Regions from separate parts of the Homo sapiens genome. Here regions 1 and 3 are each linked to region 2. Evidence: fine-mapped expression QTL. A gene starts in region 2. Each other region holds a variant in brackets. All regions are shown on one strand. Distances are from middle to middle.

The links. PIP is the estimated chance that this variant, and not a neighbour inherited with it, causes the effect. A credible set is the group of variants that fine-mapping cannot tell apart.
Region 1: its variant is the best candidate, but not a certain one, in a credible set for the expression of PDS5B in whole blood (INTERVAL, PIP 0.53).
Region 3: its variant is the best candidate, but not a certain one, in a credible set for the expression of PDS5B in skeletal muscle (FUSION, PIP 0.77).

Annotation. Positions count from the first base shown.
Region 1 is chr13:32,632,072-32,642,529 of GRCh38, reverse strand. The region is part of intron 1 of PDS5B (PDS5 cohesin associated factor B); the gene reads right to left. Among named protein-coding and RNA genes, the nearest start is that of PDS5B, 51 kb to the right of the region's middle. The variant TTAC/C (reference allele first, on the strand shown) is at 5,287.
Region 2 is chr13:32,580,941-32,591,398 of GRCh38, reverse strand. It overlaps PDS5B (PDS5 cohesin associated factor B), which reads right to left and starts at 4,947. Exons shown (of 35, transcript NM_015032.4): 1 at 4,806-4,947. It overlaps PDS5B-DT (PDS5B divergent transcript), which reads left to right and starts at 4,954. Exons shown (of 3, transcript XR_001749808.1): 1 at 4,954-5,022; 2 at 5,477-5,595; 3 at 5,830-6,381. RefSeq lists an enhancer at 3,843-3,902 and silencers at 4,133-4,382, 4,803-4,882, 4,893-5,262.
Region 3 is chr13:32,711,706-32,722,163 of GRCh38, reverse strand. All of the region lies in intron 19 of PDS5B (PDS5 cohesin associated factor B), which reads right to left. Among named protein-coding and RNA genes, the nearest start is that of PDS5B, 130 kb to the right of the region's middle. RefSeq lists enhancers at 979-1,572, 7,265-8,249. The variant T/A (reference allele first, on the strand shown) is at 4,465.

The DNA of each region.
Region 1 (10,458 bases), 51 kb before region 2:
CTACTAAGCAAACTCTATAGACCTTAAAGTCTCATTTTAACTTTTTCTGACCTCAACCAGGCAGAGCTAGGCTCCTCCCCTACAGCTAGTCACACTTTGAACCTACTACAATTAGCAATTATCACATTGTATCTATTGTACTTATTTCTATCTTTGTCTCTCCCACTAGACTGTAAGCTCCTTAAGAAAAGTAGCATATAACATTTATGCTAGCATCTATCTGCTAGCATCTATCGCAAATAGCTACTATCAGTAGTAGGCACTCAGGAAATAATGAATGAATGAACGACCAGAACTATTCGAAGAAATTATGGTTACAGCAAAAAGTAGAGCTAGACACAGGAGAAATTAAAACAAGTTAGAAAACTACTGCAAAATTCCAAGAAAGAAGTAATGAGGAACTGACTGTAGGCAATGACTACAAAACAAGAAAACTGATTCAACGACTTACGAATGATTATACCAGAGAAGCAGAACATGATTATAAGATTCGAAACCTTTGTTCCTAGAAGGCCATTTATTTAAATATTTATTGAGAATTTGCTTGGTGCAATACACTAAGTACTAGGAATACAATGATGAGCAAATGTACAAGAAAGAGCTCTGCCCTCGTTGTAATGGAGATGGGGGAAAACCCAGAGAGAGAGATTAAGTCTTGGGAAAAATAAAGTTTGCTCTAGAAGGCAACTGTAGATTATACATCTAAAGTTCTAGAAAAAAAGTGTAAAATGAGAAAATATTTTTAGAACAATTTATTGTTCATGCTTTATGGGTTTACAAGATGAGTAAAGAAAATGAGTAGGGTGAGCTGAGATACCAACACTAAACCTTAATGAAATACCTATAGTGATTGGGGTGGTGGGAGCCCACAGGGGAGATAAAGAAGGAAAACAGAAGAAAGTCAAGAAAATGGCTTTAGAAAAATGAGAGTAATTGTTACAAAAATCTACGGAAAAAATGTTTGAAGATGAAGGGACGATATATAGTGATATTACAAAAACCTAGGCAAAAATGTTTGAAAATGGAGGGGTGACATATAGTGATGATCACCCTCAGTGAAAACATACAAAATGACTTCAGCAAATACTCCCTTGAACTTGACAGGATATTTGAGAAAAAAGTGTCCAGAAAATGATGGGAATGAATACCAAATTACGAGATAAGAAAAAGGTGAAAAGAAAAAAGAGGAAGCAGAAAAGGAGCAACACAGAAGAAGAGGGTATCATTAAGTCAATGAAAAACAGGTATTGATACAGAGCTGCTCCTTAAACAGAATGTCAAATAAATGATTTGACATATAATAGTTCCTTTCATCTTTGGGGAATCTCAACCATTCACTATTAAGGTAGAGCAAACAAAAAATGAAAAATAACTGCACTTAGAAAATAGTCATATAAAACTGGCCTATATCAGACTCTATTTTATAAACTATAGTATATTACAGAAAAATGTGATTTTTTTTTTTTTTTTTTTGAGACGGAGTCTCACTCTGTCACCCAGGCTGGAGTACAGTGGCGTGATCTCGGCTCACTGCAAGCTCCGCCTCCCGGGTTCACGCCATTCTCCTGCCTCAGCCTCCCGAGTAGCTGGGACTACAGGAGCTCGCCACCACGCCTGGCTAATTTTTTGTATTTTTTTTAGTAGAGATGGGGTTTCACTGTGTTACCCAGGATGGTCTCGATCTCCTGACCTCATGATCTGCCTGCCTCGGCCTCCCAAAGTGCTGGGATTACAGGCGTGAGCCACCACACCTGGCCAACAATGTGCTGATTTATGAGTTTCTCCATTTAAAAAATATAAACTTTAAATTTACCACCAATTAATAGTAAAACTATAACCTAGAATTTCCCTTCTTTCAAAGGGTTATTTGAAACAAGCATTTTCAGAAAACAATTCAGTTCAAAAATTATCATATGCATATTATTATATTTACATTTTTATGTTCAGCATGAACAGTAAGCATAAGAAAATATTCTAATACTAGGCCATGCACAGTGGCTCACGCCTGTAATCTCAGCACTTTGGGAGCCCAAAGTGGGCAGATCACCTGAGGTCAGGAGTTTGAGACCAGCCAGGACAACATGGCGAAACCCCGTCTCTACTAAATATACAAATATTAGCTGGGCATGGTGGCGCATGCCTGTAGTCTCAACTACTCAGGAGGCTGAGGCCAGAGAATCACTTGAACCTGGGAGGTGGAGGTTGCAGTGAGCTGAGATCGTGCCGTTGCACTCCAGCATGGGTGAGACAGCGAGATTTCATCTCAAAAAGAAAAAAGAAAAGAAAATATTCTAATACTAAAGTTTTTTTTTAAAGTTCAAATAAAATGATCATTAATTAAATATATGAGAATCTTTTAATCACACTGAGTACAAGAAAAATCAATGAAATGGTCATTCTTTAATATTATCAGACATAAATAAATGTTCATAGATGTAACTAAACAAGAGACTGTAGTAAAAAATATGTAAGATATTTTCACTGAATAGAAAAGGAAAACAAAGTACTGACTAAAGAGCAAGAGCAATCATAACAATAAGCAATCCTATTTTTTAGTTGATTTAGGCATCCAAATCAACAAATAAAGACCGGCATCTGCCAGTTTCATGTTGATTTTTCTTAAAAATTCACAGTCACAGAAATCAAATCAAACCACTACTAGAATCCATACTGGGCCATGTTAATTTAAAGCTGTTTTTCCTTCTGGGATTTCACTCCAGGTTTGAGGTGGAATTCAAAGGAAAACATAAGATTTTGTAAAGAGTCTGATATAACTACAGAAGGCAGTCTTCGCCACAACTGCTACCTCTTGCAACCAGCAGATGGTGCCCTCCATAAAGACAACTCTTCAGTACACAATAATTAAACAGTGTAAGAAGTTTAGCTTATTCTTGTTGAGGGACAACCAAAAATCTAATGGGAGTTTTTCCTACGAGAAAAAACGCTAAGTAAATTATGCTATTCTCCCCTAAGCATACAACTTGAAAGCCCTGTTTACATATTTTCCAACTGTTTAAACAAAAATCTGCCTTTTTCAACATACAATTTTTTGACTAATCTACCATGCAGTTTGAATTAATCTTTATTAATTCAAAATCAGTGTATTTATGTTATTCCTTATTTGTTCTGGTAAAACAGTGACGGTGAATACTTTAGGAAGTTCTTTTAGAAACTGGACCCTTTCTTTGAATACATATTTTTGTTAATGTTTATTTGTAAAAGGGCAAACATGGTCACTTGCCTACATCATTTTTTAAGGACCATCAATGTTATGGAAGATACTAAAGTTTAACTGGCTCAAACAGAAAAGGAGCCCCAGGCCCTGGAATATCTCGACCTGCATCAGTTTCTAACCGCACAGAAAGTGTTCTGTTAAATCTCTTTAAAGTAATTCTTGTATATTAATAGTGATAATATCTCTCATTTATTGAGTGATTAGTATTTCTCTGCTCAGTAGTCAACTCGATATCCCATTGTGGGGGGTGGGGGGGTGGATAAAATTACGAATTTTTCTATTCACGTCAAATCTCCAACACACATTCTTGTACAACGCCGCCCCCGCCCCACGCCCCCATGTAGACTGCTGTTGCTTCATTGAGAAAACAGAAGCGCCATCAAACGGAAACCCTCAGCCTCTTATTACCCAATTTACATGCCTATGTACATTTGCACCCATTCCCTCCCTTCCCTCCTTCCCCATTCCTTCCTTCCCTCCCTCTTCCCTAATACCAGAAAGGAAATAGCCCTCCTCACATCAAAACACTAACCCCTTCATAAGCACACAAAATCCCATCCTCTACTCAAAGACTTTTACTTGATTAGTTATCTCCTCTTTCCCCCGTATCAGCATCCTCTGTGTCTACTAGATACTCTCTCAGCATTCAAATATATTCTGTTATTGGATGGATGGAAGGCATTCAGGCAGGAAGGGAAAGAAAATACAACATACCTGTTTAGACTACAAATACCTCCCCTGCCTCAGGTATTGTCCTCTCTCCCAAATTACCTTCACAGACAAGCTTCTCAAAGAGTAATCTATACTATCTACTTTCAATTCCCATTCACTATTCATATTAATCCAACCTGGCTTCCAAAGAGTTCCCCACCCGCACACTCCACCTCATCAGCAAAATGCTTTTGCCACAGTCACTAGCAGATTGCAAAAAATGACAACAAATTTTTCCATTCCTTGTATCTACACCCTTACAATGTGACTTTGCTGCTCCTCCCATCAAGAAATAAAAGTGTTTTTTCAGACCTAGAATCTGAGATGGCGTTATGACTCTTTTAGGCAATGGGACATTGAGAAGTTTAGTAAGTGTTTGTGCTCTGGGTTAGCTTACCTACTGCTCTTGGAATTCTGCTATGGAGATGTCGGCAAGTCCAAGCTATCCCAGTGGAAAATTAGAATGTATATGCACAGAGGCACATTGTCCCAGCCATGGTCATCATGAACAAGCCAGCCCTAACCAAATCACCAGGTGACCACAGAGGCATATCTGTAGATGCATAAGCAACCCCAGCTAAAATCAGCTAAGCCTGGTCCAGATCAGTAGAACCACCCAGATAAGCCAAACCCAAATTGCCAATATACACAATTGGGAACAGTTGTTTTCAGTAAGTCAGTCTTCGGGTGATTTGTTATGCAGTAAAAGCTAACTAAAAGTCATCAGTTGACCTCTATGTTGCCAAATCAAGTGAACACTTTTCTAATCCTTATTTTATTCATCTCAGCAGTATGATACACAGTTGACCGCAGCCTCCTCCTTGAAACATTATTTTCCTTTTGTTTCTTCTAGTAACACATTGCCTTTTCCTGATTTTTTCCTACCTTACTGGTCATTCCTGTCTCCTTTGATTTCTCTTCTACTCAACCTCCAAATATCAGTTAACTCATCAGAGTTCAATTCTCTTTTTACTGTTTATGTTCTTCTCCCAAGGCTTTTGCCCTAAGCTTTCTTTTAATACATACTCCATAAAGATCTCTCTTTTCAACTCCAGTCCGCACATACAATTGTCTACTTAACATTTCCACTTGGGTATTCTCAAAGATACCGCGAACTCAAGATACTCAAAACTAAACAAAATGTCTCCCAATTTTTTTCTCCCTCCAAAAAAATCCTCATTCTTCATTCCTCTCCCTCTTCAGTGTGTGTTGCCTTCATGTACCCATTTCTTCCTCACAGTTTTCTGGGAATGAAGCTTGGCAATTCCCTTTCAATATTTACAATCAACAATCAAATCCTATAAATGCTACCTTGCAAAATGTAAATGAAATCATTTACA[TTAC/C]TTCAAAATGTAAATGAAATCATTAGCCATTACTTCACCACAACATAAATCTACACCACATCCAACTCATTCTTCAGAGAGCAACCAGAATGATCTTAATAAGCTAATCTCTTCATATCACTGCCTTACTTAGAATTCTTAAATAGGTTCTCACTGCCCTTCGAATAAGTTCCAAATATACTAATCTGACCATTTGCTCATTACACTCCAGTCACATCTCTATTCCTTGAAGACACTAAACCAAGATCCTTCTGTCTCAGGGTGTGCTATTCCTTCTGCTTCAATAAACTTTTTCTCTTCTCTAGCCCTCATGCCTGGCTAACACTGCTCTTTCAAGTCTCACCTGTCAATCAGGGAAGCTGTCCCAAATCTACTCAGTCTAAATAAAATCTTGACTGCATGCTCTCACACCACCCCTGCACTTTTGCTTCAAAGAATTTATCATAAATGTAAATACAAATTCTCTAATGTGTTTCCCCTTCTGAACTGTAAACTATATGAGAAAAGTTTAGGGATCCTAATTTGTTCACTGCTACATACCTAATGCATAACACAATGCAGGTTAAAAAGCAAAAGCTGAATAAATGTTCTTACTAAGATGAACTATATAATTATGCCCATTTATAAACAAGGAAACTGAGGTTCAAAGAGGTTAAATAACTATGCTAAAGTTATCAACAACTGAACTTAAATTGAGCCATATCTGATTCCAAAGCCTATGCCCTTAACCTAATGGTTTTCCATCTCTGGTGCACTGCTGAATCCTCTAATAATCAGACCCAAACACTTCCATATGAAAAAAGCTCCATGAGGAAATTTACATGCCAAGTTTAGTAACAAATGCCTTAACACTACAATATAGTGCTAATTCTGCCTACTATCTCTGTAAGCATTTCTGATACTTCATATACGTAAGCATGACAGCTTTAATTTTTTAAAAACAGATCATGGTTTTCAAAGCTCTTTCATGCACACATTTTCCTTCAAAATTCTATAAAAGTAGGAATCATCCCTATGTTACAGATGAAGAAAATGAAGTTCAGAAAGCTGACGAACTCGCATACAGTCACCCTGTAGTAAGTGGCAGAGCAATGACAAGAGGTCAAGTTTTCTCGTTTTTACTTCAGGCTCTTTAGGGAATGCTGAATTGGAAATTAAGAATCAGAATACTAGGCCGGGAGCGGTGGCTCACGCCTGTAATCCCAGCACTTTGGGAGGCCGAGGGAGGCAGATCACAAGGTCAGGAGATCGAGACCATCATGGCTAACACGGTGAAACCCCGTCTCTACTAAAAATACAAAAAAATTAGCCAGGCGTGGTGGCGGGCACTTGTAGTCCCAGCTACTCGGGAGGCTGAGGCAGGAGAATGGCGTGAACCGAGGAGGTGGAGCTTGCAGTGAGCCGAGATAGCACCACTGCACTTCCAGCCTGGGCGACAGAGCAAGACTCTGCCTCAAAAAAAAAAAAAAAAAAAATCAGAATACTAAAAAATCGGAGCAAACTGAACAGAAACAAAAACGTTAGCCCAACCAGAAACTCAAGGCACAAAGATATTTTAGCTTAATTAGGCGACTACAATGGCACTAATCAAAAAGGCCAGGCCAGGCACAGTGGCTCACGCCTGTAATCCCAGCACTTTGGGAGGTTGAGGCGGCCAGATCATGAGGTCAAGAGATCAAGACCATCCTGGCCAACATGGTGAAACCCCATCTCTACTAAAAATACAAAAATTAGCTGGGCGTGGTGGTACGCACCTGTAATCCCAGCTACCTCGGAGGCTGAGGCAGGAGAATCACTTGAACCCGGGAGGCGGAGGTTGTAGTGAGCCAAGATCATGCCACTGCACTCCAGCCTGGCACCAGAGCAAGACTCCGTCTTTAAAAAAAAAAAAAAAAAAAAGACAGGCCAGGCATAGTGGCTCACACCTGTAATCCCAGCACTTTGGGAGGCCAAGGCAGGAGGGTCACTTGAGGGCAGGAATTCTAGACCAGCCTGGGCAATACAGTGAGACCCCCCCATCTCCACAAAAAAAAAAAAAAAAAAAAAAAAAAAAAAAAAAAAAAAAAAAAACGTAATTGGCTGGACATGGTGGTGCATGCCTGTAGTCCTAGCTTCTCAGGAGGCTGAGGCAGGAGGATGGCTTGAGCCCAGGAGTTCAAGGCTATCATCAAGTTACTGCACTCCAGCCTAGGTGACAAGAGTAAGGCCCGGCCTCTTTAAAAAAAAAAAAAAAAAAAAAGAGGCAGTAAGAAATATTGCTGAGGTTGTGAAGAAACTGGAACCCTCATATTTTATGGGAATGTAAAATGCTGCAGCCATTTTTGAAAAACGTTTCACAGTATCTTAAAAGGTTAAATGTTGGCTGGGCACGGTGGCTCATGCCTGTAATCCCAGCACTCTGGGAGGCCGAGGCGGGTGGATCACAAGGTCAGGAGTTAGAGACCAGTCTGACCAAGATAGTGAAACTCCATCTCTACTAAAAATACAAAAACTAGCCAGGCGCAGTGGCAGGCGCTGTAATCCCCGCTACTCGGGAGGCTGAGGCAGGAGAATCGCTTGAACCCTGGAGGTGGAGGTTGCAGTAAGCTGAGATCGCACCACTGCACTCTAGCCTGGGTGACAGAGTAAGACACTGTTCTCAAAAAAAAAAAAAAAAAGTTAAATGTAAACTTACAATATGACCTAGCAATTCCCCTTCTAGGTGTCCATCCAAGAGAAAACCTATATCCACACAAAGACTTTTACCAGAATATTCATGGCAGTATTATTCATAATGCCCAAAAACAACAAACAATCCAAATGTCTATTAACTGGTGAATGGATAAACAAAATGATACTAATTGGAATAAAAAGGAAAAAAGTACTGAAACAAAAGTGAATCAACTAGATTCTGTGCATGTACATATACATGTGCACATATTGGTGAAGGTGTTATAAAAGAAATTGGGACCAGTTAATCTAAGGCTTTAAGTCTCTGATAAGGAGTCTGGTCATTATCACATAAGGCAGTTGTCATTTTTTTTCTTTCTTTTCTAAGAAATTTAAAGAGAAATGAGATTTGTATTTTAGAGAATTTCCAAAGACAAAGACATACCAGCTAGAACACAGGAAGACTGCAGGAATCTATGAGGGACTGCAAGAGGCTCACTGAAGCAGTAACAGGAAGCTCTGAACAACTGGAAGATAACATAAGAGTATTTGAAGAGAGGATATAACAGAAAACAGGAGAGAAGTATAGTTTAGTAGGAGAAAAGAGATTGAGACAGAAGTAAAATCCAGGAGGCATTGCATAACATTACAATGTAGCTCTTTAAGATGACAATAAAATGGGCATAAAAGTACCACCCATATTGATATGTAAGGACCCAATGTACCATACTGTATACAGGACAAATGAGAGTACAACTATTAATTCTACCTCATTAAAAGTAACACAGTATCCATAAAGATAAACAAATATTCAACAAATCTGCTTACAAAGTTATGTACCTTGTAAATAAAATATTAATAATGAGTAAACTGGGGGAGGGGTTATAAGAAAAATTAGGATGTCAAGTCCACCAAAAAGTTTAATTTGATAAGTTTCTCAATAAATTTCCCTATAATGGGGAAAACTTAACAAAATCATTATAGTACATAAACACTTGATATATTCCTGAAAGACATTAGTTTTGAGGGACTGCATACGGATTAATATTACTAAATCTAATCTGAATCTAGTCTCACTGATTACATCTACCTTATATGCTTCCTGGCTAAAATCAACAACTTTGTTTTGTGACAGTGTTGTCCAAACACGGATAGCTGGTTTTGTTTTTGTTTTCTTAAATAGTTTTATTAAGACAGAATTCACATATCAAATAATTCATCTTTTAGAGTGTACAATTCAATAGTTTTAGATCTAATACTTTTTTTATGTAAAATATATGTAACATAGAATCTACCATTTATAAATGTACAATTAAGTGACATTATTAATTATATTTACAATATTGTGCAACCACTACCATTTCCAAAACTTTTTCATCACCCAAAACAGAAAGAAACTTGTAACCATTAAGCAATAACATCCCATGCCCTGTTTTCCCCAGCCCCTGGTAACTTCTACTGTCTGTCTCTATAAATTTGCCTATCCTTAAGTGCCTCATGTAAGTAGAATCACAGTATTTGTCCTTTTCTGTCAAATTTCACTGAGTGTATTTTCAGGTTCATCCTGTTACAGCACTTATCAGAGCTTAAATTCTTTTGAGTAGCTGGGACCACAGGCGCGCGCCACCACGCCTGGCTAATTTTTGTATTTTAGTAGAGACGGGGTTTCACCATGTTGGGCAGGATGGTCTCGATCTCCTGACCTCAAGATCCGCCTGCCTCAGCCTCCCAAAGTGCTGGGATTGCAGATGTGAGCCACCACGCCTGGCCCAGAGCTTCAATTATTTGTATGACTGAATATTATATGTATATACCACATTTTGTTTATCCATTCTTCTGCTAGTGGACACTTGGTTTCCATTCTTGGCTACTGTGAACAGTGCTGCAATAAACACTGCTGTACAAATACCCATTTCAGTCCCTGTACAAATCTTTTCAGCACACAGCTAGCAGTGGAATTGCTAAGTTTATGGTAACTTTATGATTAGCTTTTTGAAGAACCACCAAACTGTTTCTCACAGCAGCAGCTAGCTACATCAGCAAATGAGGGCTCCAATTTTTCCACATCCTCTTCAACAGTTATTTTCTGGTTTTGTTTTTTTATAGCCATCCTAGTAGGTATGCAGTGTAACCTCATTATGTTTTTGATTTTCATTTTCCTAATGATTAATGGTGTTGAGTATCTTATGTGCTTACAGGTCTATTTGTGTATCTTTGGAAAAATGTCTATTCAAGATCATTGCTCACTTTTAAATTAGGTTGTCTTTTTGTCATTGACCTGTAGTTCTTTATATATTCTGGACATTAAATCCTTGTTAAAGATATGACTTGCAAATATTTTCTTCTGTAGGTTGTGTTTTCATTTTCTTATGTCCTTTGATGCAGAAAAGTTTTTAATTTTTATAAAGTCCAATATATATTTTTTATTGTTTGTGCTAATAAATTCAGGTTCATAAAATTCTACTCCCATATTTTCTTCTAAAAGTATACAGGCTTAAATCTTACATTTACATCATTGAT
Region 2 (10,458 bases):
ATGCCTGTAATCTCAGCACTTTGGGAGGCCGAGGCGGGCGGATCACGAGGTCAGGAGTTTGAGACCAGCCTGGCCAACACAGTCTCTACTAAAAATACAAAAATTATCTGGGCATGGTGGCACACGCCTGTAGTCCCAGTTACTCAGGAGGCTGAGGAAGGAGAATCACTTGAACCCAGGAGGTGGAGGTTGTGGTGAGCCAAGATTGCCCCACTGCACTCCAGTCTGGGCAACGGAGCGAGACTCCATCTCAAAAAATAATAATAATAATAAAATAAATAAATAAAATAGTAAATTACAGTACAACAGTATAACAATACTCTTTGTACAATTTTTTTTAAAGTAAACTTTTAAGAAACTGTTAACAGTGGATTACCTGTGGGGGGAGGAAAAAAGTAACATTTTTTACTCTATCATTAAATTTTTTTTTTTTTTACCATATACCTGTATAACTTTTAACTTAAAATACACAATTCTTTAGGTACTCTATTCCCCTAATAGAGTACTTAAGGCCTGCAACTCTCACCCCTGCAATTTGCCCAGCATCTTGCCCCTGCAACTTGCCCCTGCAACTCTCACCCCCACACCCAACCCAAAGCATCCCATATCTGAAAGCTAACTGAAACTACCTGGTAGAACTTCAGCTACTAAATAATATTTTGGAGATATGGAGCTTTCCTTTAAAATATCTTCAATTACTTCCCTAAAATCACCTCTGAGGAGAAAGAATCCTATCTTACCTAAGGAAACACAAAATCTCATTTCTTTTCAGGTCCCTAACCATCCTCTTCTAGAGAAAGACAATGGTCTTGGTTATAAGAGCCCCTCCTTCTCCTTATGGGATCTAATCTTGGCTAATTTCACTCTCCCACATAAAAAGAGCAACCTCAACTGCCACTGAAAAGGAAGGAGGGCCTGCTCCTTCGGAACTAAGTAACAGCAGAGATCCTACTCTCTGGTCTGTCTCAGCTCTCATCACCTTGCTGTGGATGGCCAACCACTACTCTGCACTTCTATAGGACAGGGTGTCTTCAGTCCTGTTTAGTGCATCATCCCTGGTACTGTATGTATATGGAAGTTTTGTACCTGTTCATTTTAATTGAATCAGGTAATTATCCGTCAAAAAAGAGAATGGCAGGCTAGTGGAATACTTTTAGTCCTTAAAAAGATGCCTCAAAATAGTTTCTTACTTTAATCAGTCTTTCCCCCAAGCCTGTTAGCTTTTATGTTTTACATAGCTAAACCAAGTATTTTTAATTACTACTTATTATTAATGTCTAATTATTAGAACACAATGATTATACTTTTTAAACCTCAAAGGCTTTAAGATTTGAACAAATAAATTTTATTCATCTAAGTTTTATTATCATGATTTTTTCACTGTGCACGATCACTCATGCCAGCTAAAACAATTACAGTCTCAACACAGCAAATTTATTCTTAATTCTGAACTAATTAATGAGAAAGGATTCTAAAACCTTTTTCAAGTAATGGGGGAAATGGTTAGAATCAAGTGGTTGTAACAGAACAGTGTGAGGAAAGGGCTTCTTACCTCTACTCTCCAAGGAGTCAGAATTGCGAACCATTTGGCAGCTTCTTAAAAAGTAAATACACTCTCAGAGAAACTACTGGGCTTGTTTTTAAACTAAGTATTTTTGGAATCTTTAACATTCCCGAACAGGAATACGAAAACCAAGTAAAACGCCTATTGTAACTAGAAGTGACAGATGACTTGTGTAGCAAACTGAGTTTAAAAATGAAAAAATACACGCATACTCATGCACGCACTATATCTTGTAACAAAACAAAGGTCAATACTAACTTTCCCAAATTACTCTTAGAAGTTTCACAAAGAATAAATAAATGCCATGTCAAGTAATGTTACATAAAGAAAGACGGCTCCCGGAGACAGAGACCTACAAGAGGCTATCTTCTGAGACAACCTAAATGGACTGAATCCTAAACAGAAATTATTAAAAACCAGACGCTGAAACAGACGGCTAACCACAAAACTTTATTCTTGGTTAAATGAATAAAAAGGTGAGAAGGGGATGGAGGGTAATGTACTACCCTGAATTTTTATTAATAAATATTGCTAAATCCTGAATAGAACAAAAAAAGACAATGGGGAAACTTCTAAGCTTCCAGGATATCTTAAGGGCTGCCCCAGTTCCACCACATGAATATGACTGTGACCTCAGATAAATCAATGAAATTAAAATCTGAACCTAATTTCTCATGTATAAGTGAGTTGGAGATCATCCTTAAGTTTTCTTGTTGCTCTTTAACACTAACAGAGGAAACACAAATGTATTCTTTTCCAATATACGTTATATACAGTCCATGTCATTCAAGAGTCCGTATGCCAAATCATACTGAGCACTCCTGTTAGTTCTAAGGCAGTCTCTAAATTTCCCAAGAGGTAAAGCAGAAAGAATACAGCTTCCCGAAATATTCCTTCCCCACAAAGTTTTGGGTATTTTCTACCATTGCACCCCTCTCCAGGGCAAGCCCTGCCTAATACAGAGTATCACTTTATCTTAGGCCTAACAAATTATTGATAAAGCCTACTGCTCAAAATGTTACTTCGTTAAACAAAGCTGCAGAACAATTTAAACAACTTTCATCCAACAGCCAACTCGGTAGAATCTTATTACAAATAAGCTTAATACAAACATCTCCTAACAACAATCACTATCATCACCACATCTCTCTCTAATATGGGGAGAGGGGAGAGACATAACACGAGAGAACAAAGCCTACAAGAGTAACAAAAGCTGCTGTAAAAGAAAAGTTAATATAGGGAAAATCAGCCTTAACCGAAACAAGGAGAAAAGAAAAAAAGAAAAAAGGCCAAGACAAACACTACCTTCCCATTTAAAATATACCTTTAAGTAAACGCCAGCTGAGAAGAGAACAATTTTTAAAACCATCAGAAAAAGGAGGAAAAAGTCACTATTTTGGTAATTTTTATAAAGTCTAAAGTGCATCTTGTTAGACATATTTGTAAATGTATATTAAGTACAAATTTTATTTATAAGGAATAATGTTCTTAAGATGTGTTTTTACAGTTAAGTTTCTGAGACTAAATCTATCTTCACATAAAAGTTCCCATGTAATTTTCACCTACATATTCAGCACTACAAATTTTAATTAGGTTTTCTGCTATCACCATGAGATACAAGATTAATTGTTGCACGAACTGACCTGCATACACCATTGAATACTCATTTTATTGTCCCTAAAGATGCGAACATCTCAGACATGTGTACTGCATGAAGAGCTGTCTTTCAAGTCCATATTTGTGGCTTTTAATTACTTTACCTGACCACTACATGAGTTAATATAAAAAACGTTCTGTCTGGGAACTCGGGATGTGTTAACTGAGAACAATGACTATACTGCCGTTCAAGCATTGGGTAATTACGATTTATTTACAGCTCGCCTCCTGTATGTAAACACAACTTGAGTTTTTGAAGTTCATTAGGAAGATAGTATAGGATTACCCAACTCTCTCCACACCGCAGACCAACCCTCTAAATTAAGGCTATACCCAAAGTTTTCGAAACTATTTCATCAACAGGGTAGGATCAGTCTGGGCACCACTGCCCATCCATCACCTCTTATTAAAAGTACGAGAAGCACTTTCTTCGACATAAAAAAGGGTTAACCCTCGCTGGGGGAGAGAGGCTGTTGAAGACGCGCGTGGAGTGGGTGGGTAGCTGCTCTACCAACCCTTCCCGGAGCTCGCCCCGTCCGCGGCAAGGAACGCAGCAGCCTGCAGCTCCGAAGGCGAGGGGCGGCGTTTCTGGTTTCAGTCATTCGTCCAAAATAACTGTCGAGCTACTTAAGAGTTAGCTTTCACGTCTCTACCAAAAACCAACAGCAGTAGCAGCAACAACAACAAACAAGGTTTTTCTCCGGACCGAAAACTTTTAAAGTAACATTAAAATAACAGTGTAAAAACAATAACGAGTCACAATTGCACACCATTTTCCCCGCCGTTCCTTCTGAAAGGAAAGCTAGAACCCAGTTGTGGCCTGGGAGGAGTCCCTCCACGCCAGTGCTGGGCTCTTCCTCAACTGGCTGCTCGGGGACCACTCGGGGTGGCGCGGTGAGCGCGATTTCCCTCCGGCGAGCGGCGAGGGACAGTGCAAAAATGTCACGCTCAGCCCGTCCCCTGGCCCGAAGCGGAGGCCAGGCGGCGCGCGGGGACCCGGCGGCGGGGGCGAGAGCGCCCGCGGCCCCGACCCGCGGTCCCCGCCCGCCCCTCGCCCGGAAGGGGGAGAAGCCCGCCCGCGGGAGGATTCAACAGGAGCACCGCGCCGCCCGCCTGCCGCCCGGGAAACAGCCGCCGGCCGGCCGGGGCGCGGGGGGAGGGGCGCGGCGGCGGCGACGGCGGCGGCGGGAGGGCGCGGGCGGCCGGGCGGCCCCGAGACCCCCGCCCGCGCGCAAGGTCACCGCCCGCCGCCGCCGCCGCCCCGGCCGGGATCAGAGCGGCAAGTTTAATTTTCCAGAGGCTGCGGCAGAACCCGCGGCGTGGAGGCGCGCGCCGGCCGCGGGGCCCTCCCCACCCCCACCGCGCAGCCGGCCCGCGCCCCGCGACCCCCGCCCCGGGCCACCGCCAGGCAGCCACCCGCTGCAGCCCCCGATGCCGGGAGGCGAGTCGCGCCTGGCACCCAGGCGGGCGGCGCTTCAGCCCTGCCACACACACGCACACAGCGGCAGTGGCGGCCGCTGAAAAATGGAGCGCCGCAGCCAGAGAAGAGAGACATTTTCTTTCCGTTAACTGAATTGTTTCCTACCTCCGGGTTGCCGACTCGCTACTCCGCTCACTCCGGGGCTCTCCGGGATCCGCCGCCGCCGCCGCATCCAATCGCCTTCTCCCCCCCCCTCCCCTTCCGCAGCCAGCCCTGCCGTTCCTCCTCCTCTCCGCTTCAAAATGGCGCCAAGCGCTCTTCGGCGGCTGCTCCAATCGAACCGCCGCGGACAGCACCCGGGGGCAGGCAGAGCGCGGCATGGGTGCGCAGCGCCCCCTGCCGACCAGACGGCCCCGAGCGCGTCCGCCCTCCGAGCTCCACCCCGCCCCGTCCGCGCGCGCGCACGTCCCTCCTCAGCCCCGCCCCGTCCGCGCGCACGCAACCACACGGGCACGCCGCCGCGGGGCCCGCGAGAAGGGCAGCTGTCAAGGCGTCCACTACTCTTGCGGCTTCCTAGACCTCTACCGACAAAAACCACACCGATTGTTACGTAGCCCTATCTTTTTAGATAAAGGTTGGGAGATTTTTTTAAACCCTGACATTCAGCACAGGTGTTGTGATGGGTAAACAGAATTGGTATTATTAACTACTTTGCTCCTTACTTGTTAACTCTGACCTAGTCGTCTCGGAATGCCATACAAATAGTTTTCCTACACTTTACGTGTTATGTCTTTATTAAATCTCCCCGCTTTCCTAATTTGAGGAATTGTTTATAGGTGGTAGGCTGGCGGAGACAGAGTAATTGAGCCTGTGACGAAGCATTCCATTCCTTTGGCAGAATTGTCCTTATTAGAGGAAGAAATCATCTGGAGACCACAGGGACACATTCCAGGAGGTGGGTCTCCTCCCCTCTTCACCTCTAAGGGATGCCAGTCCCTCCTGCAGCTGTAGAGTGGGTTTAGCCTGGTCACCACAGCAGATCACCTACCTTGCGGGAAGGTTTCCTCCCCAGCCGGGTCCCTGCCAGAGCTGAAGAAGGGACTTCCTCCTCTTTTTACTTTAATACCATCCCTGCTGTAAGGAAGTTTCCCCTGATATGATGTATTTGGTTACTAGAATTTTGTTCCAGGGAGAATTTGTTTCAACAATGAACAAGCAAAGTGTGAATGAATGGATTACAGTAGGATACTTATCAACTGAAACAAAAGAGAGGTAATGCTGATATATAAACTAATGCTACTGTGTTAGAAAAGGTATGTACATCGGTATTCCATCGGACCCGGGCACCTAGAGATACTGAGACCTCTTCATTTCCATTTTTGTGGGATTCGCTGGACAATTCCGCCTCAGTCTCCTCCAGTGCTTGCTAGACCAATATGTTGTGTTACTGTATTCCTGTGTCCAAGATTTTGCCACTGAATACTCCAGGTTCTACCCATTTTATACATTCCTCGATGAAGTCTACTATGAGTTTTTTCTGCCCTCTTTTTAAAATTATCTCAGGAATTTTCTTATTTTACATCGTTGTTCCATCAACATAAATCTTGTATGGGAGAGTAGGATGTCTAGATCTAGAAAAACCTTTCCTCTTTGGTTGTTTTTATTATGTTTTTTACTTTATTTTCTTCAATTCCCAAACCTCCAAAGCCAGGAAGCCAGAAAGTTTCAGAAGAAAGCCAGGATGAAAGCAAGAATTTTTTTTTCTTTTTTCTTTCTTTTTTTTTTTTTTTTTTTTGAGATGGAGTCTTGATCTGTCGCCAAGCTGGAGTGCAGTGGCGCGATCTTGGCTCGCTGCAACCTCCCTCTTGAGTTCACGCAATTCCCCTGCCTCAGCCTCCCAAGCAGCTGGGACTACAGGCACACACCACCACTCTCAGCTAATTTTTTGTAATTCTTAGTAGAGACAGAGTTTCACCATGTTGGCCAGGATGGTCTCGATCTCCTGACCTCGTGATCTGCCTGCCTCAGCCTCCCAAAGTGCTAGGATTACAGGCGTGAGCCACCATGCCCGGCTAAGAGTTTTTGTATAAATTATTCAGTGCTCTTATCCCCATTATTTGACACCTGGAAGCCTCAGTAAATATTTTGTTGGATGTATGAATTGTTTAAGAATGTCACTCTACATCTTGTATATGGCAGTGAGTCCTGAAAGGGCTGAAGGTGTCACGTCAACTTTGTGAGCAGTTTTGCCAGTTTCACCATTAACCCTCTCTCTTATAAAATGATGCCTTGAATTTCAATGAGGCCCGGAATACATATTGCCCACGTTAGGCTGCTAACACCACAGGATTAAGCCCAAGAAAAGAGTGGGCAGAAAGGAGATAGCCTTCAAAATAGCTACATTGTAAGGGTCAATGGGGCAATTACCATTAGGACAGACAGAGGAAAAACCCTAAAGCTTTAATGAGGCATAGTTTCTAACAAAAGGGCATACTTTTATATGACTGCAAGTGGCTTTACAGAAATCAGTAATATAAACCTTCATTTAAAACAATATTGTTTGGGAAAACTAAAATCTAAAGTTGATATTTGAACAAAAATAATCTTCTGTGTTTGGGATTTTTAAAAATAGCCAAGTTGCAATTCATTAGGAGCAACATAACACAACATTGTTTAAGACAGTTTAAGAGTGTGAACCATTCAAAACTCAGTTGTGAATGCTTTCTACACCAAGAAAGAGAAATTATGTGGGAATTATGTCCAAATGCTGGTTTTATACAGAAATGGTTAGGAGAATTGTCTTTGATTATGAATAACCACAAATGTAGTTCCCACCTCTACTAATTTTACTTTGTCACTATAACAAATCATCACAAAGTTGGTGGCTTAAAAGAGCACAAACTTATTGTCTTACTGGAGTGCAGAAGTTTGACAGGTATCTCGCTGGGCTAAAATCAAGGTGTTGTCAGGGCTGTGTGTCTTTCTGGAGGCTCCAAAGGAGAATCCCTTTTCTTACTATTTCCTTCTTCCAGAGGCTGCCCAGATCCCTTGGTTCATATCCTCCTTCCTCCATCCGCAAAGCCAGCTCCATGGCGTCTCTCTGACCTGCTTTTGTCACCGCAGCTCTTCCTCTGACTCCCTCATCCACTTTTAATACTCTTGTGATTATATTGGGCCCACTTGGATAATCTCTAATTTAAGGTCCATTGATTAGTGACCTTTATTCCCCTTTGCCATGTAACATAACATATTCAAAGGTTTGGGGATTACGACATGGATATTGTAAGGGGACCATTATTCAGTCTGCCACATCACTCATATTTGAGTTACCTGGGCTTTTTTTAATAGAGTCCAAATTTGAGGTTAAAGAGGTTAGCAAGTTGAAAGACATCAGGAATGCACACAATTAACCTGGACAGTCCTAAATATACCCCTATGGCCCCTACTGCATTTTGAGTACAGCCTTGCTGCACTACAGCATGGTTTCCAAAATATGGTGAAATGTTTATCATATTATACATAGTAGAGCACACTGGGCAGCTAATTAGTAAATGATAAGACTGGGCCCTACCTAGACAAACATTACCGGTTCAGCATAATTCAAGGTATGTCCCAAAGGCTAGTCAAGACAAAAATATGATCCCTGTTAGCCTGCAACAGTGCTGAAATTCCCACTAGACTAATTTATTGGGTTAAGGCATTGGATTCTCAGAAAACATGTTGGAATGTGGTTGTGTTACTTGAAAAAGTTAGGCAGGGCTCGGTGGCTCACGCCTGTAATCCAGCACTTTGGGAGGCCAAGGCAGGTGGATCACGAGGTCAGGAGTTCAGGACCAGCCTGGCCAAGATGGCGAAACCCCGTCTCTACTAAAAATACAAAAATTAGCCAGGTGTGGTGGCAGGTGCCTGTAATCCCAGCTACTTGGGAGCCTGAGGCAGAGAATTGCTTGAACCCGGTAGGGGGAGGTTGCAGTGAGCGGAGATCGCACCACTGCACTCCAGCCTAGACAACCGAGCGAGACTCCATCTCAAAAAAAAAAAAAAAAAAAACACTAACCCATTCATATCCATTAGGAGAAACTAAGCCCAACAGAAATTAGCTTTGTGATATTTTAGGCATTAGGCAAACTGGTGAGGCATTTTGATAAACTCCAAGCCCCTGAAGTTGATCCTTCATTCATGACATCACTACTGCTGAAAGATGGTATACGGGCTCTTTTCCTTCACCCTCATCCAAGACTCAGCCCCTGGTGCCTCAAATTTCTCCCTCCACAATTAATCCCCTGCATGAGGCACTGTGCCCATCCTGTGATCCTCTTTACAATGCAAATATTCCTGAAAGGATGCCACATTCATCTACAGTCCCAGGGCAGCTGTTCTTAACTCGAGTGGAGTGGAAGAATACCAAAATCATCTGGGAAATTTCTGTAAACTAGATCTTCAGAAACTATATTGGAATATGTTTGATACATCTAACTTTTTTAAAGAGTTCCAAAGATAGATGTCAGAAATTTTTACACAAAATATCGTAGCTTGCATTATCATCCAAAGAGAGATTTGGGTTTAAGAAAGCATTTATCATCAGTTCAACTTCTGGAAATAATAAAGAGATATAGAACCAAGAGCAATTTCACTTGAAAAGTAAGGAGAATGACAAAGGAGAATTTAGACTGCTGCTTTGAATATTTGTGCAAAGGCGTATAAATTCCTTCAATATAATATGTTTCACATATATTCACATGCAATCACTAATCAATGTTATTTACTTTTGCGCTATTTGAAAAATCTACAGGCCGGGCATGGTGACTCATTCCTGCAATCCCAGCACTTTGGGAGGCTGAGGTGGACAGATAGCTTGAGCCCAGGAGTTTGAGACAAGCCTGGGCAACATAGCAAGACCTCCCTCTATAAAAAATAAATAGTTAGCTGGGCATGGTGGCATGCACCTGTAGTTCCAGCTACTCGGGAGGCTGAGGAGAGAGGATCACTTGAGATGAGGAGAGGTTCCAGTAAGCAGTGATCGTACCATGGCACTCCAGCCTGGGCAACAGAACAAGATTCTGTCTCAAAAAAAATTTTTTTTTAATTTAAAAATCAGCATTCCAGTGTAAGATGGCCAAAAACTCCAAAACAATTTTTCAGTTTCACGTTTCTGTTCTAGGCAAGCAGCCTGTTTTTGAGCATAGGGTAGTAGCTCACTCTATATGGAACCAAGTTTGTATCACCTCTTATTCCAAGTAAATTGACTCCTAATACTTACTCTTCATGGATACGTAGGAAGCATACTTTGCTCTAACACAGGAATTCTATTTCTTCTGGCTGTCTCATTTAGTTAAAACTTGATATTTAAAATTAGCTTTATTCAGCAGCCAGCAGATGGAGCTATTGAAAAATGTTGACATCTCCATTCTTTTTTATGAAATAAAACTGGTTTAGAGATACACTTTAATTTTTTGCTGTGTAAATAATCTGCCCATTATAGAGAAATCTGGAACTGCAGTTAAGATTAAAAAGAAAAAAAGATCACTCATAATTATGCCACCAGAAAAATTTACTTATAATGCTTTGATATGTATCAGTCCAGAACATATTATATTCATATATTTAGATTTAGATTTGTTTTACAAAACATAATGTTTTATAATATAAAATTTGCTCCTAAAGGCATAGAAATCTCCAAGGATAATATTAAAATACTTGCAACTGTACAGGACAGGCAAGGACCAATGACAACAGATACTGGCTGTAGCTTGAATAGGACCACATATGCTGCCTGCTGTGTGAAGCATTAACTCTTCAATTAATGGATGATGGGCAA
Region 3 (10,458 bases), 130 kb before region 2:
GGGCTGGTCTCCAGCTCCTGACCTCAAGTGATCTGCCCGCCTCGGCCTCCCAAGGTGCCGGGATTGCAGACGGAGTCTTGCTCACTCAGTGCTCAATGTTGCCCAGGCTGGAGTGCAGTGGCGTGATCTCGGCTCGCTACAACCTCCACCTCCCAGCCGCCTGCCTTGGCCTCCCAAAGTGCTGAGATTGCAGCCTCTGCCCGGCCGCCACCCCGTCTGGGAGGTGAGGAGCATCTCTGCCTGGCTGCCCATTGTCTGGGATGTGAGGAGCCCCTCTGCCCGGCCACCCAGTCTGGGAAGTGAGGAGCGCCTCTTCCCAGCCGTCATCCCGTCTAGGAAGTGAGGAGTGTCTCTGCCTGGCTGCCCATTGTCTGGGATGTGAGGAGCCCCTCTGCCAGGCCACCCAGTCTGGGAAGTGAGGAGCGCCTCTTCCCGGCCGTCATCCTGTCTAAGAATTGAGGAGCGTCTCTGCCTGGCCGCCCACTATCTGGGACGTGGGGAGCGCCTCTGCCCGGCCGCCCCGTCTGGGATGTGAGGAGCACCTCTGCCCGGCTGCCCCGTCTGGGAGGTGAGGAGCGTCTCTACCCGGCCGCCACCCCATCTGGGAGGTGAGGAGCACCTCTGCCCGGCCGCCACCCCGTCTGGGAAGTGAGGAGCGCCTCTGCCCGGCCACGACCCCGTCTGGAAACTGAGGAGCACCTCTGCCCGGCCGCCCCATCTGAGAAGTGAGGAGCCCCTCCGCCCGGCAGCCGCTCCGTCTGGGAAGTGAGGGGCACCCCCGCCCGGCAGCCACCCCGTCTGGGAGGTGGGGGGAGCCCTCGCCCGGCAGCCGCCCCGTCTGGGAGGTGGGGGGTTCCCCCGCCCGGCAGCCACCCCGTCTGGGAGGTGGGGGGCGCCCCCGCCCGGCAGCCACCCCGTCTGGGAGGTGGGGGTCGCCTCTGCCCGGCTGCCACGTCTGGGAAGTGAGGAGCCCCTCTGCCCAGCCACCACGCCGTCTGGGAGGTGTACCCAACAGCTCATTGAGAACGGGCCATGATGACAATGGTGGTTTTGTCGAATAGAAAAGAGGGAAATGTGGGGAAAAGAAAGAGAGATCAGATTGTTACTGTGTCTGTGTAGAAAGAAGTAGACATAGGAGACTCCATTTTGTTCTGTACTAAGAAAAATTCTTCTGCCTTGGGATGCTGTTAATCTATAACCTTACCCCCAACCCCGTGCTCTCTGAAACATGTGCTGTGTCAACTCAGGGTTAAATGGATTAAGGGCGGTGCAAGATGTGCTTTGTTAAACAGATGCTTGAAGGCAGCATGCTCATTAAGAGTCATCACCACTCCCTAATCTCAAGTACCCAGGGACACAAACACTGCGGAAGGCCGCAGGGTCCTCTGCCTAGGAAAACCAGAGACCTTTGTTCACATGTTTATCTGCTGACCTTCTCTCCACTATTGTCCTATGACCCTGCCAAATCCCCCTCTCCAAGAAACACCCAAGAATGATCAATAAATACTAAAAAAATTTTAAAAAAAAATAATAAAATAAATAAATAAATAAAAATAAAAAATAAAGATAAAAGTTGTACCCCTGTGCAGTGCAGCTCCATCATAATCTTAAGAGACTACCATATACATCTGGTCTATCGTTAACCAACGCACCATTATGCAGTACATGACTTTATACCTAGTATAGTTTGTTTCTCTGACTGAACCCTGAACTATATGACAGATTATGTGCACATCTTTTCTAATTATCTCTGGGATAAGTTCCTGAAAGTGCAGAGCCAAAAACTATACACATTTTAAGTTTGCATATATTACCACGTTACCAACCTAGAAGCATAGCATCATTTTATACTCCCACCAAGACAGCATTGTTGGAATGCTAACTAATACTGGTTGCATCACATAATTGCTTATATTTGTATTTCCTTGATTACATAAGCATCTTTTCATGATTTGGAAGGCTGACAGGACTTCCTGCTTATAAATTTCCTGTTCATTCTCTTTGCTAGTATTCTACTATGAGATTTATATTTGTTATTCCTTCATTAAGAATCTTTAATACATTGCAGCCAGGCACAGTGGCTCACACCTGTAATTCCAACACTTTGGGAGGCCAAGGCGGACAGATTACTTAAGGCCAGGAGACAGAGACCAGCCCCGCCCACATGGCAAAATCCAGTCTCTACTAAAAACACAAACAAAAAAAAATTGCCAGGGGTGGTGGCACACGCCTGTAATCCCAGCTATTTGGGTGGCTGAGACACAAAAACTGCTAGAACCTGGGAGGCAGAGGTTGCAGTGAGCCAAGAGATCAAGCCACTACACTACAGCCTGGGAGACAGAGTGAAACCCTGTCTCAAACAAAAAAAAAAGGGGGGGGGGTCTTTATACATTGCAGGTATTAACCTTTTCTAACTAATATATACTGAAAATAGTTTTCCAGCATATCATTTGTGTTTCCAACTTATTTCATGATTTTGGCTTTTATCTAAATAGTGGTTCCTCACCCCCACTAAAATAAAAGGGCAGAGAGACTTAGCCTGTCCTCTTTATTACAATGTCCTCGACACCTAGAACTGTACTGTACACCTAGAACCATACCATACATGGTGGGGCAGGGAGTGGGGGGTAACACATAGATTTTTTTGCAACAAATGAATTTTTTAAAAATAATACAATCCAGGCCAGGCATGGTGGCTCATGCCTGTAATCCCAACACTTTGGGAGGCCAAGCTAGGCAGATCACCTGAGCCCAGGAGATCAAGACCAGCGTGGGCAACATGGCAAAACCCTGTCTCTACAAAAAATACAAAATTTAGACAAGCATGGTGGCATATGCCTGTAGACACAACAACTTGGGAGGCTGAGGTGGGGGGACTGATTGAGCCCAGGAAGTTGAGGCTGCAGTGGGCCATGATTGAGCCACTGCACTCCAGTCTAGGTAACAGAGCAAGACCCTATCTCAACAAAATAATAATAGTAATAATAACAATAATCCAACCCATCAATATTTCATTCATGACTTGGTATAAGTGTCCCTTCCTCTACAAACAAGGAAGTTATAAAAATATACTGGTTACTAGTATTTTAATTCATGTTATATACTTAAACCAAATCCATGTTATACACTTAATGCAATAATTTGTCTTTGATTCTTCTGGAATATATGTAAAATCAAAGTAAGCAGTCTATTTTCCTTTCAAAACTGCTTGCTAATTATTTACTAGGTAACGTACCTTTTCCTGACCAATGTATTTGTTAAGTATTATATCCCCCCATCCACCATTATTACAGCATTGCAAATTTCTTGTATACTTTACTTCTAGGTCTTCTGATGTTTACTCCCATAATAATGTAAATGATTGTTGGTTATATACAGAAAACTTTGGATTTTTACATACTCATTTTGGCTACCCCATTTTGAGTAGTTTTTCGGTTGATTCTCCTGGATTTTCCAAGAAAAATGAAAGCTTCTTCCTTTCCCACACTTGTATTTCTTATTTTATATTCTTACATAATTACACTAGCTAATGCTTCCAAAACAATGTTAAACAATAGCAGAGATAGTGTGGTATCTCACCTTGTTCCTGCTTTTATTGGGAATGCTACTGGTGTTTTACATGATGCTGCCTATTGGTTTGAGAGATATTAATTATGTTATGAAGGTACGGATTCCTATCTTATTAGATTTAATTAGAAACAGACTGATTTTTTTGGCCAGGCGTGGTGGCTCACACCTCTAATCCCAGTACCTTGGGAGGCCGAGGCAGGCGGATCACAAGGTCAGGAGATCGAGAGCATCCTGGCTAACACAGCGAAACCCCGTCTCTATTAAAAATACAAAAAATTAGCCGGGCATGGTGGCGGGCGCCTGTAGTCCCAGCTACTCGGGAGGCTGAGGCAGGAGAATGGTGTGAACCCGGGAGGCGGAGCTTGCAGTGAGCCGAGATCATGCCACTGCCCTCCAGCCTGGGCGACAGAGCGAGACTCCGTCTCAAAAAAAAAAAAATTCAGAAGCCCTTTCAGCATCTATCAAAAATGATCTATTGTATACCCTTTTCCCTACTTATATAATAAATTGTAAACATAAATAGTAGGCTTACTAATATTGTACCAACGCTCTCTGTATACTCCTAAAATTAACCATGTTTGGCCATAATATATTCTCGCTTTATTATTTAAATTCTCTTTTTGCTACTATCTTGCTTATACAAAAATCACATATTAGTAAGATTTGTCTTAGCGTTTTTTTTTGGGGGGGTGGGTGGGGAGGATATCTTTTACTAGGTTTTAGTATTCATGTTAGTTATCCTGGCTGTAAAGAAAATGAGTGCTTTCTTTTCTATACTCTGAACAATTAAAAGAATTAGAATTCCTGGTTTCTTATAGATTTGAAATATCTCCCTCAAGACACAACTTACATTGGTGCTTTTTTTTTTTTTTTAATTTATTGATTTATTTATTT[T/A]TTTTTTTTTTTATTGATCATTCTTGGGTGTTTCTCGCAGAGGGGGATTTGGCAGGGTCATAGGACAATAGTGGAGGGAAGGTCAGCAGATAAACAAGTGAACAAAGGTCTCTGGTTTTCCTAGGCAGAGGACCCTGCGGCCTTCCGCAGTGTTTGTGTCCCTGGGTACTTGAGATTAGGGAGTGGTGATGACTCTTAACGAGCATGCTGCCTTCAAGCATCTGTTTAACAAAGCACATCTTGCACCGCCCTTAATCCATGTAACCCTGAGTGGACACAGCACATGTTTCAGAGAGCACAGGGTTGGGGGTAAGGTCACAGATCAACAGGATCCCAAGGCAGAAGAATTTTTCTTAGTACAGAACAAAATGAAAAGTCTCCCATGTCTACTTCTTTCTACACAGACACGGCAACCATCCGATTTCTCAATCTTTTCCCCACCTTTCCCCCCTTTCTATTCCACAAAACCGCCATTGTCATCATGGCCCGTTCTCAATGAGCTGTTGGGTACACCTCCCAGATGGGGTGGTGGCCTGGCAGAGGGGCTCCTCACTTCCCAGTAGGGGCGGCCGGGCAGAGGCGCCCCTCACCTCCCGGACGGGGCGGCTGGCCGGGCGGGGGGCTGACCCCCCCACCTCCCTCCCGGACGAGGCGGCTGGCCGGGCGGGGGGCTGACCCCCCCACCTCCCTCCCGGACGGGGCAGCTGGCCGGGCGGGGGACTGACCCCCCCACCTCCCTCCCGGACGGGGTGGCTGGCCGGGCAAAAGGGCTCCTCACTTCCCAGTAGGGGCGGCCAGGCAAAGGCACCCCTCACCTCCCGGACGGGGCGGCTGGCCGGGCGGGGGGCTGACCCCCCAACCTCCCTCCCAGACAGGGCGGCTGGCCGGGCAGGGGGCTGACCCCCCCACCTCCCTCCCGGACGGGGCGGCTGGCCGGGCAGAGGGGCCCCTCACTTCCCAGTAGGGGCGGCTGGGCAAAAGCGCCCCTCACCTCCCAAACGGGGCAGCTGGCCGGGCGGGGGGCTGACCCCCCCCACCTCCCTCCCAAACGGGGCGGCTGGCCGGGCGGGGGGCTGACCCCCCCACCTCCCTCCCGGATGGGGCGGCTGGCCTGGCGGGGGCTGACCCCCACCTCCCTCCCAGATGGGGTGGCTGCCGGGTGGAGACACTCCTCACTTCCCAGACGGGGTGGCTGCTGGGCGGAGGCGCTCCTCACTTCTCAGACGGGGCGGCTGCCGGGCGGAGGGGCTCCTCACTTCTCAGATGGGGCGGTTGCCAGGCAGAGGGTCTCCTCACTTCTCAAACGGGGTGGCTGGGCAGAGACACTCCTCACCTCCCAGACGGGGTCGCAGCCGGGCAGGGGCGCTCCTCACATCCCAGATGGGGCGGCAGGGCAGAGGCGCTCCCCACATCTCAGAGGATGGGAGGCCAGGCAGAGACACTCCTCACTTCCTAGATGGGATGGCGGCCGGGAAGAGGCGCTCCTCACTTCCTAGATGGGATGGCACGCCGGGCAGAGACGCTCCTCACTATCCAGACTGGGCAGCCAGGCAGAGGGGCTCCTCACGTCCCAGACGATGGGCGGCCAGGCAGAGACGCTCCTCACTTCCCAGACGGGGTGGTGGCCGGGCAGAGGCTGCAACTCTCGGCACTTTGGGAGGCCAAGGCAGGCGGCTGGGAGGTGGAGGTTGTAGCGAGCCAAGATCACGCCACTGCATTCCAGCCTGGGCACCATTGAGCACTGAGTGAACCAGACTCTGTCTGCAATCCCGGCACCTCGGGAGGCCGAGGCTGGCGGATCACTCGCGGTTAGGAGCTGGAGACCAGCCCGGCCAACACAGCAAAACCCCGTCTCCACCAAAAAAATACGAAAACCAGTCAGGCGTGGCGGCGCGCACCTGCAATCGCAGGCACTCGGCAGGCTGAGGCAGGAGAATCAGGCAGGGAGGTTGCAGTGAGCCGAGATGGCAGCAGTACAGTCCAGCTTTGGCTCAGCATCAGAGGGAGACCGTGGAAAGAGAGGGAGAGGGAGACCGTGGGGAGAGGGAGAGGGATAGGGAGAGGGAGAGGGAGAGCTACACTGGTGGTTTTATTAGCGAATAATGTTTCAATTTTTTTATAACTAGAGTCTGTTAGGTTTTTGTCTTTCCTCATCTTGAACTTATTTACATCATTCTTAAAAATCCAGGTTTTCAAATACATTTACATAGCCATATCTAAAAGTTAAATAATTAAACTAAAATGATAGGCAAAGACAAATCAGAGATATACAAACAAAAAGGAAACAAAATCTAGATTTAGAGGGCATAAGCAAAACTGAGTTCCAGACGGAAAAGCATAAAACTATGTAGACAGGGTAACCTCATGATAAAAAAGGGGTGGTACATTTACTGAGTCCTGTATACTTAAGAATATCCTTCATTTGCCCCTACTTAAAAGTAGCTAGGGCTGCCTAGGAAATTCTTTAGTTATACTGTTTTTTCCATCAGAACTCTCCAGCTGTTGAATCATTAACTTCAGAAATTGTGTGTGGTTTGAAAAGAAGTCAGCCAGCTTCATTATTTTCCACTGCGCTGACCTAACTATGTTGCAGGAAGTCAGGGACCCCAAACAGAGGGACCAGCTGAAGCCATGGCAGAAGAACATGGATTGTAAAGGTTTCATGGACATTTATTAGTTCCCCAAATTAATACTCTTGTAATTTCTTATGCCTGTCTTTACTGCAATCTCTAAACATAAAATTTGTAAAGATTTCATGGACACTTATCACTTCCCCAATCAATACTCTTGTGATTTCCTATGCCTGTCTTTACTTTAATCTCTTAATCCTGTCAGCTGAGGAGGATGTATATCGCCTCAGGACCATGTGATAATTGTGTTAACTACACAAATTATATAGCATGTGTGTTTGAGCAATATGAAATGTGGGCACCTTGAAAAAAGAGCAGGATAACAACAATCGTTCAGGGAATAAGAGAGATAACCTTAAACTCTGACCGCCGGTGAGCCAGGCATAACAGAGCCGTATTTCTCTTCTTTCAAAAGCAAATGGGAGAAATATCGCTGAATTCTTTTTCTCAGCATGGAACATCCCTGAGAAAGAGAATACGCACCTGGAGGTATAGGCTTATAAACAGCCCCCCCAGGTGCGCCTGTCTCTTATGGTTGAGGCTGCAGAGCTAAAACAGACTCCAGTCTCCCATAGCGCTCCTAGGCTTATTAGGAAGAGGAAATTCCTGCCTAATAAATTTTGGTCAGACCGGTTGATCTCAAAACCCTGTCTCCTGATAAGATGTTATCAATGACAATGGTGCCCAAAACTTCATTAGCAATTTTAATTTCGCCTCAGTCCTGTGGTCCTGTGAGGCTTATTAGGAAGAGGAAATTCCCGCCTAATAAATTTTGGTCAGACCGGTTGATCTCAAAACGCTGTCTCCTGATTAGATGTTATCAGTGACAATGGTGCCCGAAACTTCATTAGCAATTTTAATTTTGCCTCTGTCCTGTGGTCCTGTGATCTCATCCTGCCTCCACTTGCCTTGTGATATTCTATTACCCTGTTAAGTACTTGATGTCTGTCACCCACACCTATTCACACACTCCCTCCCCTTTTGAAAATCTCTAATAAAAACTTGCTGGTTTTTGTGGCTTGTGGGGCATCACGGATCCTACCAATTTGTGATGTCTCCCCTGGATGCCCAGCTTTAAAATTTCTCTCTTTTGTACTCTGTCCCTTTATTTCTCAAGCCGGCCGCCGCTTAGGAAAAATAGAAAAGAACCTACATGATTATCGGGGCAGGTTCCCCGATATAACTAGTTTTTCTTGATATTTGTGAAATCACTTTTGCAATCCCTGAAAATTTAGCAAACTGCACCAGTATATTTTCCAAAAATGAGTCTTCACCTCCAGATTCATATTTTAAATCATTCAGAACAAATTTATTATTATTTTCTTGAATATTTTCCATTTCCCATTATTCTACTGTCTTCTCCAAAGATGTCAATTATGGTTTTTCACTATCTGCAATTCATTCCCTTTAACTCCATTTTTTCTCTCCAATTTCTCTATATTCTATGCAGATTTCCTCAAGCCAAATCTCTAGCTTACTGATTCCATCTTCCACATTGTTTATTCTGCTCCTTGCTACTTATATTAAATTATATTCTATAGTCAATATCCTTAGCTCTTTTTCATGTATTACTTCATTTTTGTTATCTTTTTTCTCTCATGTCATTTGCTGTTTACCTTCCTTGGCAGCTTAAATAACTAAGACAGTTATTTAAGTATTGCTTATCAGTTACTTTGGAATGCTAAGATATTTACATAGGTTTTGTGTTTGTTAACTTGCTTATCTGTATTCTGTTAATTCATCTTTGAATAAGAAAAATTCTCTCTGGCTTTGCTATTTAAACAAAAGTATAGTTAGCATCTCCCGGATGACTGAACACTTCTTTAAAAAATTAACATCAAAGCTCCCAACTCAGGCTACAGTTGCTTCATCACCTGGCTAAGTAGCATAGGAATGAGAGTTAGGACTAAAGGTAGTAAGTCCTTTTTCTCTGTGTAATTTATCTCCAAATTTGTTAAAACTCTTACAAGGATAAGAACCAGTCACTTGAGCTATGGGTACATCACATGTTATGACAGGATCCTCAGTTTTGGCACATCTAACTACTTTTAGGGGAGTCAGACTCCTGAGAGACAAGCTGAGACACAATGGAACTCATATAACTCATCGTTATGGAACCCCATAACTCATCTTCATTTTTTGTTTAATGGGTTAAGCGTATAATTTTCTTCTGTTCCCGTAAAGTTGGTAAAAAGATATTTCCTTCATGATTTTCCTTAGTCTTACCTCATCACTAAACTTTGCTCTTCCTGGTAAACAGGTTGACCTAAAGAAAAATACTATGACCACAAAGCCTCTCCTTTAGTCCTAGTACAGCTAAAATCAGGTTTTCTTTCTTTCTCTTAAAGTGTGTCCATATAGCAATATCCTCCCTCTAAATTAGCAAATAATAGGACACTTACAGTACACTGCCAATACATATCCCTTGTCAGTGCTCTCACTTTCAATAGAGTCTTAAGGGCACATCTGGTGCCAATTCTGTCCAGTTGGTGGTAGCTTTACTTAAATACATTTTTCTTTAGGTTCTTTTTAATTATTTTGATGAATTCAAGGGAAGACAGTTTAATCAACATTCTCTTAACTATATTATTTTTCCTCAAAATCAACTCACCCAATTTAATAATTTAAAAAATTAAATCTACATACATAGTTTATCTCCTGGAAGAAATTATTATGAGTTATTTCATCAACAACAGTGTGTGCACACTGCAGGAATTCAGTATCAGCTGAGTTAATTCTCCTCATGAGAAGTATCTGAAATATATTCAGTATATAAATCAAATATTTTAAATACTTCAGTTCCATATTAAAGCAATACATTTTAAAATGCTCCATGTACATTTTAAAATGTCCACCTTTTGACCCTGTTCTTGTGGTTCTACAAATATATCAAACCATGTTTCTTTAAAATATAAAAGTTACTAGGGAAAAACAATCTAGAATGAAAATAATAAAACCTCCAGGGAATAAGCCAAATTTGAACTTTGTCAATGCTCTAATTAGAAAAGAAACTGCTGTAATGGATATCGCACCATAGGCACTGGAGCCAAACAGGCCTAAATTCAAATCCTGGCTCTGTCACTTGCTAGCTGTATGACCTGGGTCCATTTACCACTTGAACATTAGATTCCTCATTTGGAAAACTAGGATAATAACCGCACTTCACTGAATTGTTACAATGTTTAAATGAGACAGTATAGTAAGTGGGCATTCAGCAAATGGTATACTGTTATATACAGTTTATACATAATGAGTGGGTATGTATACGTACTACATATGTGTGTGCGACAAATACACACATACACATACACATACATACAACCAAACTCTCATCTCTGATCTGACTAGGAGAGCCATAGCACCA